Regions from separate parts of the Homo sapiens genome. Here region 2 is linked to region 1. Evidence: fine-mapped expression QTL. Tissue or cell type: fibroblasts. Region 1 holds a variant in brackets; the other region holds the start of a gene. All regions are shown on one strand. Distances are between the middles of the regions.

Region 1 (8,000 bases):
AGAGATTAGAAGAGAGAGGGGTAGAGAGGAAAGTGGAGAGAATTGGTAAGAAGGAGTAGATTGAACAGAGGGAGAATGGGAGGAAAGTAGAGAGGAGGAGGAAAATAAAAGGGGGAGAAGAAAGAGAAAAGAGAGAGGAGACAGTAATAGGTAGAAAAAGAAAGAATCTTTGAAAGTTTTAACAAGGAGAACAGAATCAGATTTGTGCAGCAATGTGCAGAGTGGGCTGAAAAATGAAGGTAGAAGGGAAGGAGCTTTCTCCCTGTGCTGCAGTGAGAAAACCACTGCAATAATATTGGTGAAAGATGTTGTGGGTTTAAGGGCCTACTTTGGAAGAGCAACATTGGAACTGGACAGAAAGGGATCAAGAGGGGTAAACAGAAGTAGAACTACAGGTCTTAATGACTGACTTAATACAATGAGTGAAGGAGAATTAGGAGCTGAAATGACTAGTTTGAGGTCTGAATGACTAGGAGAAAAGCAATACTTTTAAGACCTTCACATAACTGGAAGAAAAAAAAAAACAGAAGTATATTTCCGCTTTACTATTTTAATAACCACACTCAATAAATCCAATACTTACCACAATCCTCTGTGCAATGACCAAGAGTAAGCATGATGCTAAATTTTTCTCCTGAATCCAGACTTTCATGAAGCAGTAATGCCAGAAGTTTAGAAACAATGTGGTACTTGGAGAGTACTATCCCAAAAGTAGCTATTAGTATAAAATAGGAAAAAAAGATAGTACAAATTTAAAACTTATAAATGTATATATACTATGTATTTTTCAGAGTTTATTCAGGCAGAATGTTATATATCTATATAAAATTAAATATACACATATCATAACATCTAATAAATATGTGTATGTGTGAATATAAATAAAATATAAATTCATTGTAATAAGATGGCGGCCTATTACTATAACCCTCATTACTCTTTCTTCCCATACTAAAGACATATTACTAAAGCAAATTTTTTGAAGAATTTTTTTCTTAATTGTTCTGCAGAATGCTGTGAAGATGAAGTAACACTAACTTCCTAAAAGCTGAGTATGCTTACTCTCCCCTTACATACCTCTTCTTATCTAGATTGGATAGTAAAGACTTTCCTACATAATCAGTTCCTGCTGTCATTTAAAATACACTATTAACTGACCACAGTTCTACTGACTTACTGATGCAATGAAGCATATGCAAAGCTATGCTGAGATGTGACAAAAGTCAAAAAGACCACCATTTTAAGCTATACTTCTCCAAATGTGGCTTTTAACAGAGTTCACCCAGAGTCTAACAATACTAATATCAACAAAAAAGTTGTGAATTCCTGAAGGGACTACATCTTAATCATTTTTGTACTTGTAAAGCTCCACACATAGCAGGTCCTCAATAACCACTTTTTAAAAAACCATCTATTTTTTGCTCCCTAGTTGTTTGTGAATAATAATAGAGTTTCTTACTCTTCAGTGTTTGCGCATGTGAGAAGCAGCAGCCATGAGTTCAAGTCTGGTTCTGCCACTCACTAGTAATGCTGTGTTGGGTAAATCTGACCTCATACTTAGCAGAAAGAGATGTATTCTTTACATAAATTGGGTTTTCCATTCTTAATCTCAAAAATATCCCTTGGTTTCTCATCTGAAAATTTTAAATTTTTTTTTTTTTGAGAGATGGAGTCTCGATATGTTGACCAAGCTGGTCTCAAACTCCTGGCCTCAAGCAATCCTCCCATCTTGGCCTTCCAAAGTGCTGGGATTACAGGTGTGAGCCACCACACACAGCCTGAAATTTTTAATTTAATGCTGCCTTTTTTTCCAGATGGAGTTTTGTACTTGTCACCCAGGCTGGAGTGCAGTGGCATGATCTCAGCTCCCTCACTGCAACCTCCACCTCCCAGGTTCAAGCGATTCTCTTGTCTTGGCCTCCTGAGTAGCTGGAATTACAGGCACCCGCCACCACGTTTGGCTAATTTTTGTATTTTTAGTAGAGATTAGGTTTCACCATGTTGGCCAGGCTGGTCTTGAACTCCTGACCTCAGGTGATCTGCCCGCCTTGGCCTCCCAAAGTGCTGGGATTACAGGCATGAGCTACTGTGTCCAGCCATGTTGGATACTTTCTAATACTTCCTTCCACCTGTGAGAAACTTAGTCTAAACCATGTTACTATTCAATCTACTATTTCAACACTCTTCATGCTATATTCAAACAAAATTCAATTTCAAAAAAACTAGTAAGCACTGTCACTCACGATTATCAGCAATGCATGCATCCACAGTCTTCGTCACAACCACTGCAAGTTTAGCACTGGAAAGAGTCTCATGTGAATCAGATTCCAGCTGCATGAGAACTTGAGACAATACATCCAGTCCGCCCACAGATACGAAGTATTTCTGAACATATGCTTAAAGAATAAAGTAGCAAAACTATTAATATTTCAAACAAGACAGCTGAATGGTTTTATTCAATAAATCTGCATTAAATATAACATTGACCTTTTCAAATACTTTCTAAAAATCCCAAAATTAAAGAACTAAAAATCCAATCTTTACCTGTGCATATAATCATAAAATAGATTACTTATTATGTATCTTACTTTGACACAGTAAAACTACAGTATTTCTTGTGTACTAGAAATCTTTTTTGTTTCATTTAGTAAGAACTGCTCTATTTTGTAAGAATGGCATTATTAAGCTGTCCTTTAGGCCGAGCATGGTGGCTCATGCCTGTAATCCCAGCACTTTGGGAGGCTGAGATAGGCAGATTGCTTGAGTCAGGAGTTCAAGACCAGCCTGGCCAACATGCTGAAACCCCATCTCTACTAAAAATAAAAATAATAAGCTGGGTGTGGTGGTGCATGCCTATAATCTCAGTTACTCAGGTGGCTGAGGCAGGAGGACCACTTGAACCTGGGAGGCAGAGGTTGCAATGAGCTGAGCTCACACTACTGTACTCCAGCCTGGGTGACAGAGTAAGACTCTGTCTCAAAAAACAAACAAACAAAAACAAAAGAAAAAAACAAAAAAAACACCTAACCCTCAACATTATTAAACAAGTCTTTCAATAGAGTTATAAAGAATATATTCATTCATTTATCTTGGTAATTAGCAAGCTGCCTATTTTCTGCAATCCAACATAACTAATTCCTCAGATTGACTCCTCAAGATGCAAAGTAATTTAACC[G/A]TTCTAAAAGAGCATACATCTCATCCATCATATTTACACCTAATTATTTTACTTCTTGGAGCATAAAATTATAACAGATCCCTGAGAGTCGTAACTATTCCAAGCAAAGATTCAATGACCGGTATCTATTTCTTTAAGTCTGAAGTCTTTTGTTCCCTAGTGGAAAATAATTCTGGGCCGGGCACCATGGCTCATGCCTTTAATGACTACAGGCGTGCACCACCATGCCTAGCTAGAAATTTTTGTATTTTTGGTAGAGACAGGGTTTGACCATGTTCCCCAGGCTGGTCTCAAACTCCTGAACTAAAGCAACCTGCCTGCCTCGGCCTCCCAAGGTGTTGGGATTACAGGCGTGAGCCATGGCGCCCAGCCCAGAAACATTATTTAAGGGCAGGCAAACATTTTCAATATTATGGTGGCTCCAAAATAGACTTCTTTCCTAGAAAGTATTTTCATTTTTTAAAAATCTTCAAAAAAGAGGCTGGGTGTGGTAGTAGCTCATGTCTGTAATCCTAGCATTTTTGAGAGGCTGAGGCAGGAGGATTGCTTGAATTCAGAAGTTCAATATCAGCCTGGGCAACATAGTGAGACCCCATCTCTACAAAATAAAAAAAAAAAATTGAAAATTAGCCAGGCTCAGTGGTGTGTGCCTGTAGTCCCAGCACCTCAGGAGGCTAAGGCAGGGGGATCACTTAGGCCTAGAAGTTTGAGGCTGCAGTGACCCATGATTGTGCCACTGTACTCTAGCTGGGGTGACAGAGTGAGTGAGACTCTAGCTCAAAAAAAAAAAAAGCACTTGTTAATGCATTGATGAAAATGGCAGTGTGTTACCACAGATTCTTAGTTATAGCCTAAGTGACAAAAACTCAGGCATATAAGCAGAAGAACATCCTAGACCACATTTATTGTACACTGAATATTTCAGATTTCCTCTGATCTGTAGTTTACTGAGGGTAATGACGTCCTATAACTATCACTCATTAAAGTTGGCTTTTAGAGATAAAGGGACTGTTAGGGTATCACGGAAATAGATTCCAATTTTTTTTGAATTCTAGAGATACATCCTTTGCATGTGACATATGAGTATTCGTTTCAAACACTTGAATATAGATATACATCAGCAATGTGTGAAAGTTCTAGTTGTTCCACATCCTTGCCAATATTTAACATGACCACTTTTTAACATGCTAGTGGTGTGTAGTAGTATCTCCATGGGATTTTAATTTGGATTTCTCTGATAACTAATTATTTCTTGAGCATTTTTTTCCTGAGACAAAGTCTTGTTCTGGCTCTGTCACCCAGGCTGGAGTGCAGTAGCGTGATCGTGGCTTACTGTAAGCTTGAACTCCTGGACTCAAGTGATTCTCTTGCCTCAGTTTCCTGAGTAACTAGGACTAAAACAGGTGCATGCCACCATATTTGGCTAATTTTTAGAATTTTCTTGTAGAGACAAGGTCTCACTACGTTGCCCAGTCTGGTCTCAAACTCCTGGGCTCAAGCGATTCTCCCTCCTTGGCCTTCCAAAGCACTGGGATTACAGGCATAAGCCACCATGCCCAGCCAATCTTAAACATCTTTTCAAGTGCTTATTTAATATTCATATCTTCTTTGGCGAAGTATCTGTTCAAATCTTTTGCCCATTTTTTTTAATCTTTTAATCATCAGGTTGCTTTTGTCTTCTTACTGATTTATAAGAGCTGTTTACAAGTTTCTGGGTACAAATTCTTTTTTTTTTTTTTTTTTGAGACAGAGTCTCTCTCTGTAGCCCAGGCTGGAGTGCAGTGGCGCAATCTTGGCTCACTGCAAGCTCCACCTCCTGGGTTCATGCCATTCTCCTGCCTCAGCCTCTTGAGTAGCTGGGACTACAGGCGCCCACCACCACGCCCGGCTAATTTTTTTGTATTTTTAGGAGAGACGGGGTTTCACCGTGTTAGCCAGGATAGTCTCAATCTCCTGACCTCGTGATCCGCCTGTCTCGGCCTCCCAAAGTGCTGGCATTACAGGGGTGAGCCACCGTGCTGGGCCCAAATTCTTAATCAGATAAATGTTTCTTAAATATTTTCTCTCAGTCTAGCTTACCTTTCATCCTCATAGCAAGCTCTTCCGAAGAGCAAAATTATTTCAATGGAGTCCAATTTATCATTTTTTCTTTAGTTATTTATGCTTTTTGTGTCCTTAGAAACCTTTGCCTACCCCCAAGGTGTGAGAATCTTCTGCTTTTGTTAACGTTTTATATTTTTCACTCTTATACTTATTTAAGTCTATGAACCATTTCAAGTTAGTTTTTGTATACTGTATAAGGGTTCAGATTCATATTTTGCATATAGATACCCACTTTTTCTAGCATTATTTGTTGAAAATATCTTTTCCTCCACAGAATTGCAATGGCATTTTTGTAGACAATCAACAACAATATATGTATGAGTCTATTTCTGGGCTCTCACTTTTGTTTCCTTAATCTGTAAGTCTACAAGGCCAGGTGCGGTGGCTCATGCCTGTAATCCCAGCACTTTGGGAGGCCAAGGCGGGAGGATCACTTGAGATTAGGAGTTCAAGACCAGCCTGGCCAACATGGTGAAACCCCATCTCTACTAAAAATACAAAAATTAGCCAGGCTTGGTGGCGGGCACCCGTAATCCCAGCTACTCAGGAGGCTGAGACAGGAGAATCACTTGAGCCTGGGAGGTGGAGGTTGTAGTGAGTCGAGACTGTACCATGCACGCCAGCCTGGGCAACTAGAGTGAAATTCTGTCTCAAAAAAAAAAAAAAAAAAGAATCTGTAAGTCTATACCTACACCAAAGCCACGCTTTCTTGATTTCTGTATAAGTATTAAAATCAGGCAACACAGTCCTACGGTTTTATACTTTTTTCCCCAAAAGTTTCAATTATCCTAGCCCCTTTGCATTCCATGTAAGTTTTAGAAGCAGCTTGTTAATTTCTAGAGAAAAATCTGCTAGGATTTTGCTTGGGAATTCCATGAGTCTAGAGATGAATTTGAAAGTGACGTTCTTACAGTGTTGAGTCTTATAATCCAGAGTATTATATATCTTTTTTATTTTTGTTACTCTGTGTGTGTGTGGCTGGGGCGGTGTTACAGGATCTCCCTGTTGCCCAGGCTGGAGTGCCATAGCACAATCATAACTCACTGCAGCCTTGACCTCCCAGGCTCAAGCAATCCTCCCAAGTAGCTCAGACTACAGGTGTGAACCATTACACCTGGCTAGTTTTTAAATTTTTCTGTAGATACAGGGTCTTTCTATGTTGCCCAGGCTGGTCTTGAACTCCTAGATTCAAGTGGTCCTCCTGCCTCAGCCTCCCAAAGTGCTGGGATTATAGGCATAAGGCACTACACCTAGTCTCTTGTCTTTTTCCCAGTCTCAAGGGGAAAACATTAAGTCTTTCACCGTTAAGTGTGTTACTTGTAGTATTTTGTAGAGGTCGTTTATCACATTAAGGAAGTTTCCTTCTGTTCCTAGTTTACCATGAGTTTACAGATGTAGGTTGAATTATGTCAAATGCTTTTCCTGCATCTATTGAAATTATCATATTGTTCTTCTTTTCTAGACTGTTAATATGATGAATTTTCTAATGTTAAACCAGTCTTGCATTCCTGGGATACACGCCACTTGGTCATAACATATTATCTTTTCTATATATTGCTAAATTAGATTTGTTAATATTTTGTTAAGGATTTTTACATCTATGTTCATAGAGCTATTAGCCAACAGTTTCTCGTAATGTTGTTTCTGGGTTCTGATATCGGTGTAATGCTGGCCTTATATGTTGGGAAGTGTTTCTCTCACTTCTATTTCCTGGAATAATGTATGTGAAGTTATTTGTTTGTTTCCTGAAATGTTTAGCAGAATTCGCCAATGTAACCATTAAGGCCTGGAATTTCCTAAGCTAAGGTTTTGTTTTGCGTTTTGTTGTTGTTGTTGTTGTTGTTTAGAAGTGGGTTCTTGCTATGTTGCCCAGGCTGCAGTGGCTATTCTCAGGTATGATAATAGCACACTATACCCTTGAACTTCTAGACTCAAGTGATCCTCCCACCTTAGTCTCCCAATAGCTGGGACTACAGGCATGCGCCACCGTGCCCAGCTTGTGTTAAGGTTTTAAACTACAAATTTGACTTCTTTAACAGATATAGGAATATTCAGGTTACTATTTCTTCTTGGGTGAGCTTTGTTTGGTAGTTTGTATCTTTCAAAGAATCTGTCCAACTCATCTAAGTTGTTAAATGTCATGACATAAAGCTGTTTCTACTATTCTTTTATTACTCTTTTAATATCTGTTAAGATCTATAGTGATGTCACCTTTCATTCCTGGCACAGGTAATCTGAGCTTTCTCTCATTACTTTGTGATCAGTCTGGCTAGAGGATCACTTTTATTGATTTTTTCAAAGAATTAGCTCATGTTTCAATTATTTTTCTCTATTTCACGATTTCTAATCTCTTCATTATTTCCTTTGTTATGCTTATTTTAACTTACTTGGTTGGCTAATTTCTTAGGTAGAAGCTAATATGGTTTTTTTGGGTTTTTTGTGTTTTTTTTTTGAGACAGAATCTGTCTCTGTTGCTCAAGCTGGAGTGCAGTGGTATGATCTTGGCTCACTGCAAGCCCTGCCTCCCAGGTTCAAGTGATTCTCCTGCCTCAGCCACCCGAGTAGCCGGGATTACATGTGCACACCACCACACCAGGCTAATTTTTTTGTATTTTTAGTAGAGACAAGGTTTCGTCACATTGGCCAGGCTGGTCTGGAACTCCTCACCTCAAGTGATCCTCCACCTCGGACTCCCAAAGTGCTGGGATTACAGGTGTGAGCT
Region 2 (8,139 bases), 100 kb after region 1:
ACCTGAGACTGCATAATTTATAAAGGAAAGAGGTTTAATTGACTCACATTTCCGCATGGCTGGGGAGGCCTCAGGAAACTTACAATCATGGCAGAAGACAAAGGGGAAGCAAGACACGTTTTAAATGGCGGCAGGCAAGCAAGAGCACAGGGGAAACTGTCTGTTATAAACAATCAGATCTCCACGAGGTCAGGAGATCCAGACCATCCTGGCTAACACAGTGAAATCCTGTTTCTACTAAAAATACAAAAAATTAGCCGAGAATGGTAGCGGGCACCTGTAGTCCCAGCTACTTGGGAGGCTTGGGCAGGAGAATGGCGTGAACCCGGGAGGCGGGGCTTGCAGTGAGCTGAGATCGCGCCACTGCACTCCAGCCTGGGCAACAGAGCGAGACTCTGTTAAAAAAAAAAAACAAAATCAGATCTCGTGGGAACTCACTCACTATTATGAGAACAGCATGAGGGAACAGCCCTTATGATCCAATCACCTCCCACCAGATCCCTCCCTTGACAAGTGGGAATTACAATTTGAAATGAGATTTGGGTGGGGACAAAGAGCCAAACCATATCACACTCCCTGCTAAGATGGCAATGCTCTCTTGCCAATGTTATGTATTTAAACCCTGTTTTAATATTTACCAGGTTGACTGACAAAAATTAATGGTTCATTTAATTAGCATTTCTTTTTCTTTTATTTATTATTATTATTAATATTACTTTGAGACAGGGTCTGGCTCTTTTGCCCAAGGTGGAGTGTAGTGGCACAATCTTGGCTCACTGCAACCTCTGCCTCCCAGGCTCAAGCCATCCTCCCATCCTCCCACCTCAGTCTCCTGAGTAGCTGGGACTACAGATGCATACCACCACGCCTAGCTAATTTTTGTTTTGTTTGTTTGTTTGTTTGTTTGTTTGAGACAGAGTCTCACTCTGTCACCCAGGCTGGAGTGCAACCTCTGCCTACCAGGTTCAAGCACTTCTCCTGCCTCAGCCTCCTGTAGCTGGGATTACAGACACAAACTACTACACCTGGCTAATTTTTTGTATTTTTATTAGAGACAGGGTTTCACTATGTTGGCCAGGCTGGTCTCAAACTCCCGACCTCAAGTGATCTGCCCACCTTGGCCTCCCAAAGTGCTGGGATTACAGGCGTGAGCCACCGCCCCCAGCCTAATTTTTGTATTTTTTGTAGAGATGGGGGGGTTTCACCATGTTGCCCAGGCTGGTCTCGAACTCCTGAGCTCAAGTGATCTACCTACCTCGGCCTCCCAAATTGTTGGGATTACAGGCATGAGCCACTGTGCCTGGCCATTTCTTTGGTTTTGAGTGAGGCTGAATATTTTTACATCTTTTCTCTAAAAATGCCAATTGAACAGCTGGGCACAGTGGCTCACGCCTGTAATCCCAGCACTTTGGGAGGCCAAGGCAGGCAGATCACAAGGTCAGGAGTTTGAGACCAACCTGGCCAACATAGTGAAACCCCCTCTCTACTAAAAATACAGAAATTAGCCGGGTATGATGGCACATGCCTGTGGTCCCAGCTACTTGAGAGGCTGAGCCGGGAGAATCGCTTGAACCCGGGAGGCGGAGGTTGCAGTGAGCCGAGACCACACCATTGCCCTCCAGACTGGGTGACAGAGTGAGACTCCATATCAAAACAAAAACAAAAACAAAAACAAAAAAAACCTGCCAATCGAGCTATGCTTTCCCTTTCTCGAAGGAGAGAGAAGTAATCCTTTTCCATCGTATTTGCTTATAAGACCTTGGGACAAGGAAGCCTTGAGAGATCCGGTGAGGGACTTCGGCTGGCCATCCTATATAGGGTGACTGAACTGGTTATAGCCTTGAAATGAAAGTTCCAATGCACATAAAATCCTCCAGGGTGCATTTTTACTTTGGAAGTGGGTGTGTGTGGTAACTTAGAAAAACTCAGTGGTTTCAGGCTTGGTGGAATGATGTAATTTTTCTCAGGAAAGTGGCGGGGGCCGCCATCTGTGTGTCTCAGCAGTCAGCCCAGGGCCTGACACATTGTGGGCACCCATAACACCTGCAGATTGAATAATTAAACACTGCTGCCTCTGTCCGGAAGGGTAACCCGTTGTGACCCTATATGACCTGTCTGCTGGGGGGAGGGAAGAAGTGTGCTTTTGCATTCTCTTGCACTCATTTATTAGAAACCCTTAGACTTTTTTTTAGTTTGGGTCTGAAACAGTCCTCTTAATATGCAGGAAGAGAGATATTGCCAGTCCTGACTTTGAACTTCTGGAAAGGGCTAAGGGTGAGTGGAACTATAAATATACAAGGGCAAGTCTGACATGAGCAGTTTTATTGTGACCACGTCCTTGGGTCCAGGAGGCTGGCCAGGCTGCCCAGGTAAGCCAGGGTGTCTTCCTTCTGGAAAACCACACTCTCAGGGCTCCAAGTGGCTTTTTCTGGTTGTCTCCCATTTTTCTCTGTCTCCAGGGAAGGACTCCATCTGACTTACCATAGTTACAAGAGTTCTGTGAAAATAATTTATAAGGAAGCAGGTCATCACTGGAATGCCACAATGTTAGGACCAGAAGGGACGGAGGGATTATCTGGTGTCGGGGTTCGCTGTCTCTCTCAACCTACCAGCCGCCAGCCGTGCTGAGTTAATTGTCAGTAGCAGGCCAATATAATGGTCAGTTCAAAGCTTAATGGTTTGTGGGAAACCACTAAAGACTTTAGGGCAGGAGGCCGGGCGCGGTGGCTCACGCCTGTAATCCCAGCACTTTGGGAGGCGGAGGCGGGCGGATCACGAGGTCAGGAGATCGAGACCATCCCGGCTAAAACGGTGAAACCCCGTCTCTACTAAAAATACAAAAAATTAGCCGGGCGTAGTGGCGGGCGCCTGTAGTCCCAGCTACTTGGGAGGCTGAGGCAGGGGAATGGCGTGAACCCGGGAGGCGGAGCTTGCAGTGAGCCGAGATCCCGCCACTGCACTCCAGCCTGGGCGACAGAGCGAGACTCCGTCTCAAAAAAAAAAAAAAAAAAAAAAAAAAAAGACTTTAGGGCAGGAATTTGAGGGTTTTTTTGGTTTGTTTTTGTTTCTGTTTTTGTTTTTTTTGAGACAGACTCTCACTCTGTCTCCCAGGCTGGCGTGCAGTGGCATGATCTCACCTCAGTGCAACTTCCACCTCCCTGGTTCAAATGATTCTCATGCCTCAGCCTCCCAGGTAGCTGGGACTACAGGCGCGCACCACCACTCCCAGCTAATTTTTGTATTTTTAGTAGAGACGGTTTCGTGATGTTGGCCAGGCTGGTCTCAAACTCCTGACCTCAGGAGATCCCCCCGCCTCGGCCTCCCAAAGTGCTGGGATTACAGGCAGGAGCCACCGCACTCGGCCTTGGAATTTGAGTTTTAGAAGTGTCATTCTGCCAGGCGTGATGGCTCACGTCTGTAATCCCAGCACTTTGGGGAGGCTGAGGTGGGAGGATTGCTTGAGCCCGGCAGTTTGAGACCAGCCTGGGCAACATAGAAAGACCTTGTCTCTACCCACCAACCACGAGAAAAGGTGGGAGGGGCGTCATTCTGGCTGCTCTGCTCTGTGGTTAGGACCAAGTCAAAGGTGGAGGAGGGAAAACCGTAAAATCAAGTGAGAGGCTTGGAATAGGGTGGCTGCGTCGCCGGATGGATGAGTGGAGAGAGATTTAGGAGATAGGATTTACAGCATTAGATAACTGGAAAGAGAGGGTGAGGGAGAGGAAGGAGTCAAGATGCCTCCCAGGGTTTTGGCTTGGGTCTCTGGGCAGATGGTGGGGCCATTACTGGGTTAGGAGAGAAGAGAAAAAGCAAGTTTGGCAGAAAGCTGAGTTTGGGGTAAGTTATGTTTGAGGCGCCTGGGGGCCTCCAGAGGCAGGTGTCCAGGTGGCTGGACATCAGGGTGTGGCGCTCAAGAGAGGGTTCTGGAGTGGTCGACACCGAAGTGGAGAGGAAGCAGTGAGGTGTTCTAACAACGGTGAGGAATTGGGGAGGCCGCTGGGTTCGGGGTATGCAGAGTGTAGCGGCCACGTAGCTGGCGATCTCAGGCACGTGACTGCCTGGTCCTGTGGCCCCGCGCTCGAACACTTTCAGCACCCAGGCAGGGGGTAAGGGGCGGTGTTGCCCCCTCCCGGGTCCCGCCTTTCTGCCCGCCTCTCATCCTCTTTAGCCATTGGGCAATACCTCTGTCCATCAAGGGCCCGCCTCCGCAATTGAGCCAACCAGGGCTGGCGGGAGGGCGCTTCCTTCTGGAGCTGGGTCCTGACTAGGGACCGCCTGGGTGAGGTGAGGACCTGGTGGCCGCAGTTGTGGCACTGTGCGCAGGCGCTGAACTGACCGGACGGAGCGGGCGGCTGTGGCCTCGCCAGCTGGTGAGAAGCGGGCGAGGGTCCGAGGTAGGGAAGGTAACGAGCGGGGGATGTGGACACCTCTTTCCCCGCCAGGCCTCGCCGGCGCCTGACCCTCCCGGCCTGCGGCACCGGCTCAGGTGACTGGGCGGAGGGAGAGCTGAGGTGAGGGGGCGGGTCCGCGGCGGAGAGGGACCAGCTGGGCCTACGACCACGGTCACCCCACTCACGTGCGCGCGCCACGTGGGCCCGCGGGCTCGCCGAGGACCCTTGGCTGCCTACCGGGGCACCCCACTAGCTGCTCTGGCCTATCGAGCACCCCTTGGAGCTCTGTGTCCCGACTGCACGCCCCTGTTTTACAGGCTGGCAAGCCGGGGCTCAGAGGCACCAAGCGGGTCGCCCGGGGGCACCCAGCTGGGGTACGGCCGTGCCGGGGTTCTAGGGAGATCGGTTTTGGTGGGCTCCGGAGTCCATGCACTTAGCGATGAGGCTGAAGTCAGAGATTTGAACTTGGGACCTGTCTGTTTTCTTTAAGGATGCAAGAGGGTTTGCGTCCTGGCTGCGGTGTATCACCCTGCACCGCTGCCTGCCTTGACTGCAGGGCCGGAGCGTCAGGCGCCCTCTGCTCCCGGACAGACCGCCCCCGCACCGACTTCTGCGGGGTGGGCTGGCAGGGGGTGGGGGAGTGAAGGGACGGTCCTCAGTCCTGGGAACTCTTGAGGTCCCGACAAATGATCTCGAGATCCCGAGGGCAGGATTCATACATGAAAAGCTCATTATAATGGGTCAAGGTTTTGTTCTGTTTTTTTTTTTTTAATTTAATTTAATTTAATTTAATTTAATTTAATTTATTATATTCCAAGGAAAAGTACCACCAGGGCTAGTGAAGGGACTAGGAAACTCGTCACCCCCTTGAGGAGGCAGATGTGAAGCTTTTGGAAATCAGTTTGGCAATGAGTCTACACCCTTGGACCTACTGACTCCTTGTTTGGGAAATAACTAGGATAAAACCTAAGTAGAGAAAAGGTTACTGCATAAAGCAGTACAGTTTGGTGGGGTTTTGTTGTTGTTGTTGTTTTTAAAGAGACAGATCTGGCTCTGTCGCCCAGGCTGGAGTGCAGTGGTGTGATCATAGCTCACTGCAGTCTTGAAATCTTGGGCTCAAGCGATCCTCCCACCTCAGCCTCTTGAGTAGCTGGGACTACAGGCACTTACCACCATGCCCAGCTAATCTAAAAATTTTTGTAGAGATGGGGCACTTGCTGTATCACCCAGGGTGGTCTTAAACTCCCTAGCCTCAAGTGATCCTCTTGCCTTGGCCTCCCAAAATGCTGAGATTATAGGCATGAGCCACTGTGCCCAGTCCAGTTTGGTATTTTATATTAATAAATAGCAAGTAGTAGAAACAACCTCTAAATTTCCAGCCGTAAAGAATAGTTAAGTAAGTTGTGATTATTTATGTCAAAATGTAGCCATCAGATGTGAAAAAATACTCTTATCAGGAAAGCCAGATTCAAAGTTGGGGTTACAACTCTACAAAAATACGTACAGAATGACTGTGCGCAGTAGCTCCCACCTGTAATCTCAGCACTTTGGGAGGCCAAGGGCGGAAGATCGCTTGAGCCTAGGAGTTTGAGACCAGCCTGGAAAACACGGGGAGACCCTGTCTATTAGCTGGGCCTGGCGGCACATGCCTGTAGTCCCAGCTATGTAGGAGGCTGAGGCAGGAGGATCCCTTGAGGCCAGAAGGGCAAGGCTGCAGTGAGCCACGATCTTACCATTGCACTCTAGCCTGGGGACAGAGCCAGGCTCCATCTCAAAAACAAAACAAAACAAAAAAAAACCAAACAAAAAATACCCAGAATGACTTAGAGGGGTATATACCTAATGATGAAAATAATAGCTACTTTTTTTTTTTTAGCAGAAGCGTCATATTTTATTAAATTCTCACAAAACCTTCTAAGACTAATATTCCCATTCCACCAATAGATAACTGGAGTGTTACCTCATCAGCAGTGTGTCTGATGCTACACAAGATAGTATCACAGCTAGTGTGCTATTGGGCCTCTGAAAATGTCATATTTAGCCAGTATTTGAGGACTTAGTGTGTGCCGGGTACAGGGCCAGGCACTGGAAAGCTGTTGGTGAGTAAGGCAGCCATAGTTGCTTGAGTCATGGAGTTTATAGACTAGTGGGGAAATATACATGTATATAAAATTTAGTTTTTGAGACAGGGTCTTGCTCTGTTGCCCAGGCTGGAGTGCAGTGGCAGGAGCACAGCTCATTGCAGTCTTGACCTCCAGGGCTTAAGCAATCCTCTCACCTCAGCCTTACAAGTGAATGGGGCTATAGGTGTGCGCCACCATGCCCAACTAATTTGTAAAAAAATTTTTTGTAGAAACCAGGTCTCCTTATGTTGCCCAGGCTGGTCTTGGAACTCCTAGGCTCAAGTGATCCTCCCGCCTCAGCCTTTGGAGTGGTTACAGGTATGAGCCACTATGCCCGAAGCAGATTATTTATTTATTTATTTATTTTTGAGACGGAGTTTCGCTCTCGCCCAGGCTGGAGTGCAGTGGTGCAATCTTGGCTCACTGCAAACTCTGCCTCCTGGGTTCACGCCATTCTCCTGCCTCAGCCTCCTGAGTAGCTGGGACTACAGGCGCCCATCACTGCACCCAGCTAAATTTTTGTATTTTTAGTAGAGACGGGGTTTCACTGTGTTAGCCAGGATGGTCTCGATCTCCTGAACTCGTGATCAGCCCACCTCGGCCTCCCAAAGTGCTGGGATTACAGGCGTGAGCCACCGCGTCAGGCCTGTTTTTGTTTTCTTTGAGACAGGGTCTCACTCCCTCTCTAGTGAGGCCCAGGCTAGACTGCAGTGGCACAATCACTGCTTTCTGCAGCCTCAACTTACCAGGCTCAGATGATTCTCCTACCTCAGCCTCCCAAGTAGCTGTGACTATAGATACACACCACCATGCCTGGCAATTTTTTTATTTTTTTTATTTTTTTGGAGAGACAGGGTTTCACCATGTTGCCCAGGCTAGTCTCGAACTCCTGGGCTCAAGCTATCCACCCACCTTGGCCTCCCAAAGTGCTAGGATTACAGGCATGAGCCACCAGGCCTGGCCCCCGAAGCAGATATTTAAATGAACACTTATAGTCTGCTGGTGAGAGTGAGTTTAGTGTATTTTAAATAGTTTATTCTAAGTCATTTTTGTTCAGGATATTAGCAAATGTTTTCAGAAGTCAGTATTTTTAAGAAATTAAATTTGTGGCTGGGTGCTTTGGCTCACGCCTGTAATCCCAGCACTTTGGGAGGCCGAGGCAGGTGGATCACAAGGTCAGGAGATCGAGACCATCCTGGCTAACATGGTGAAACCCTGTCTCTACTAAACATACAAAAAATTGGCCAGGTGTGGTGGCGGGCGCCTGTAGTCCCAGCTACTCCAGAGTCTGAGGTAGGAGAATGGCATGAACCTGGGAGGCGGAGCTTGCAGTGAGCAGAGATCACACCACTGCACTCCAGCCTGGGCGGCAGAGCGAGACTACGTCTCAAAAAAAAAAAAAAAAAAAAGAAATTAAATTTGAAACTTCAACTTTTTAATTTTTAGGTTTAAAAATATCCTTTTTTGCTGAAGGAACACATTTGCTGGTATAGTTTCAGAATGTCAAGTACTGTGTCCTACTGGATCTTAAATTCTACAAGGAACAGCATTGCCACATTGCAAGGGGGTAGACGCTTATACTCCAGGTATGTCTCAAATAGGAATAAATTAAAATGGAGGCTCTT

What was found. PIP is the estimated chance that this variant, and not a neighbour inherited with it, causes the effect.
Region 2: it holds the start of PDP2, and the variant in region 1 is fine-mapped to the expression of PDP2 in fibroblasts (GTEx, PIP 0.91).

Annotation. Positions count from the first base shown.
Region 1 is chr16:66,776,620-66,784,619 of GRCh38, forward strand. It overlaps TERB1 (telomere repeat binding bouquet formation protein 1), which reads right to left. Exons shown (of 19, transcript NM_001136505.2): 10 at 2,244-2,396; 11 at 584-715. Among named protein-coding and RNA genes, the nearest start is that of TERB1, 21 kb to the right of the region's middle. The variant G/A (reference allele first, on the strand shown) is at 3,176.
Region 2 is chr16:66,876,271-66,884,409 of GRCh38, forward strand. It overlaps PDP2 (pyruvate dehydrogenase phosphatase catalytic subunit 2), which reads left to right and starts at 4,245. Exons shown (of 2, transcript NM_020786.4): 1 at 4,245-4,370; 2 at 7,961-8,139. The coding sequence starts at 8,015. RefSeq lists enhancers at 1,759-1,808, 3,959-4,038, 4,287-5,059 and a silencer at 4,519-4,698.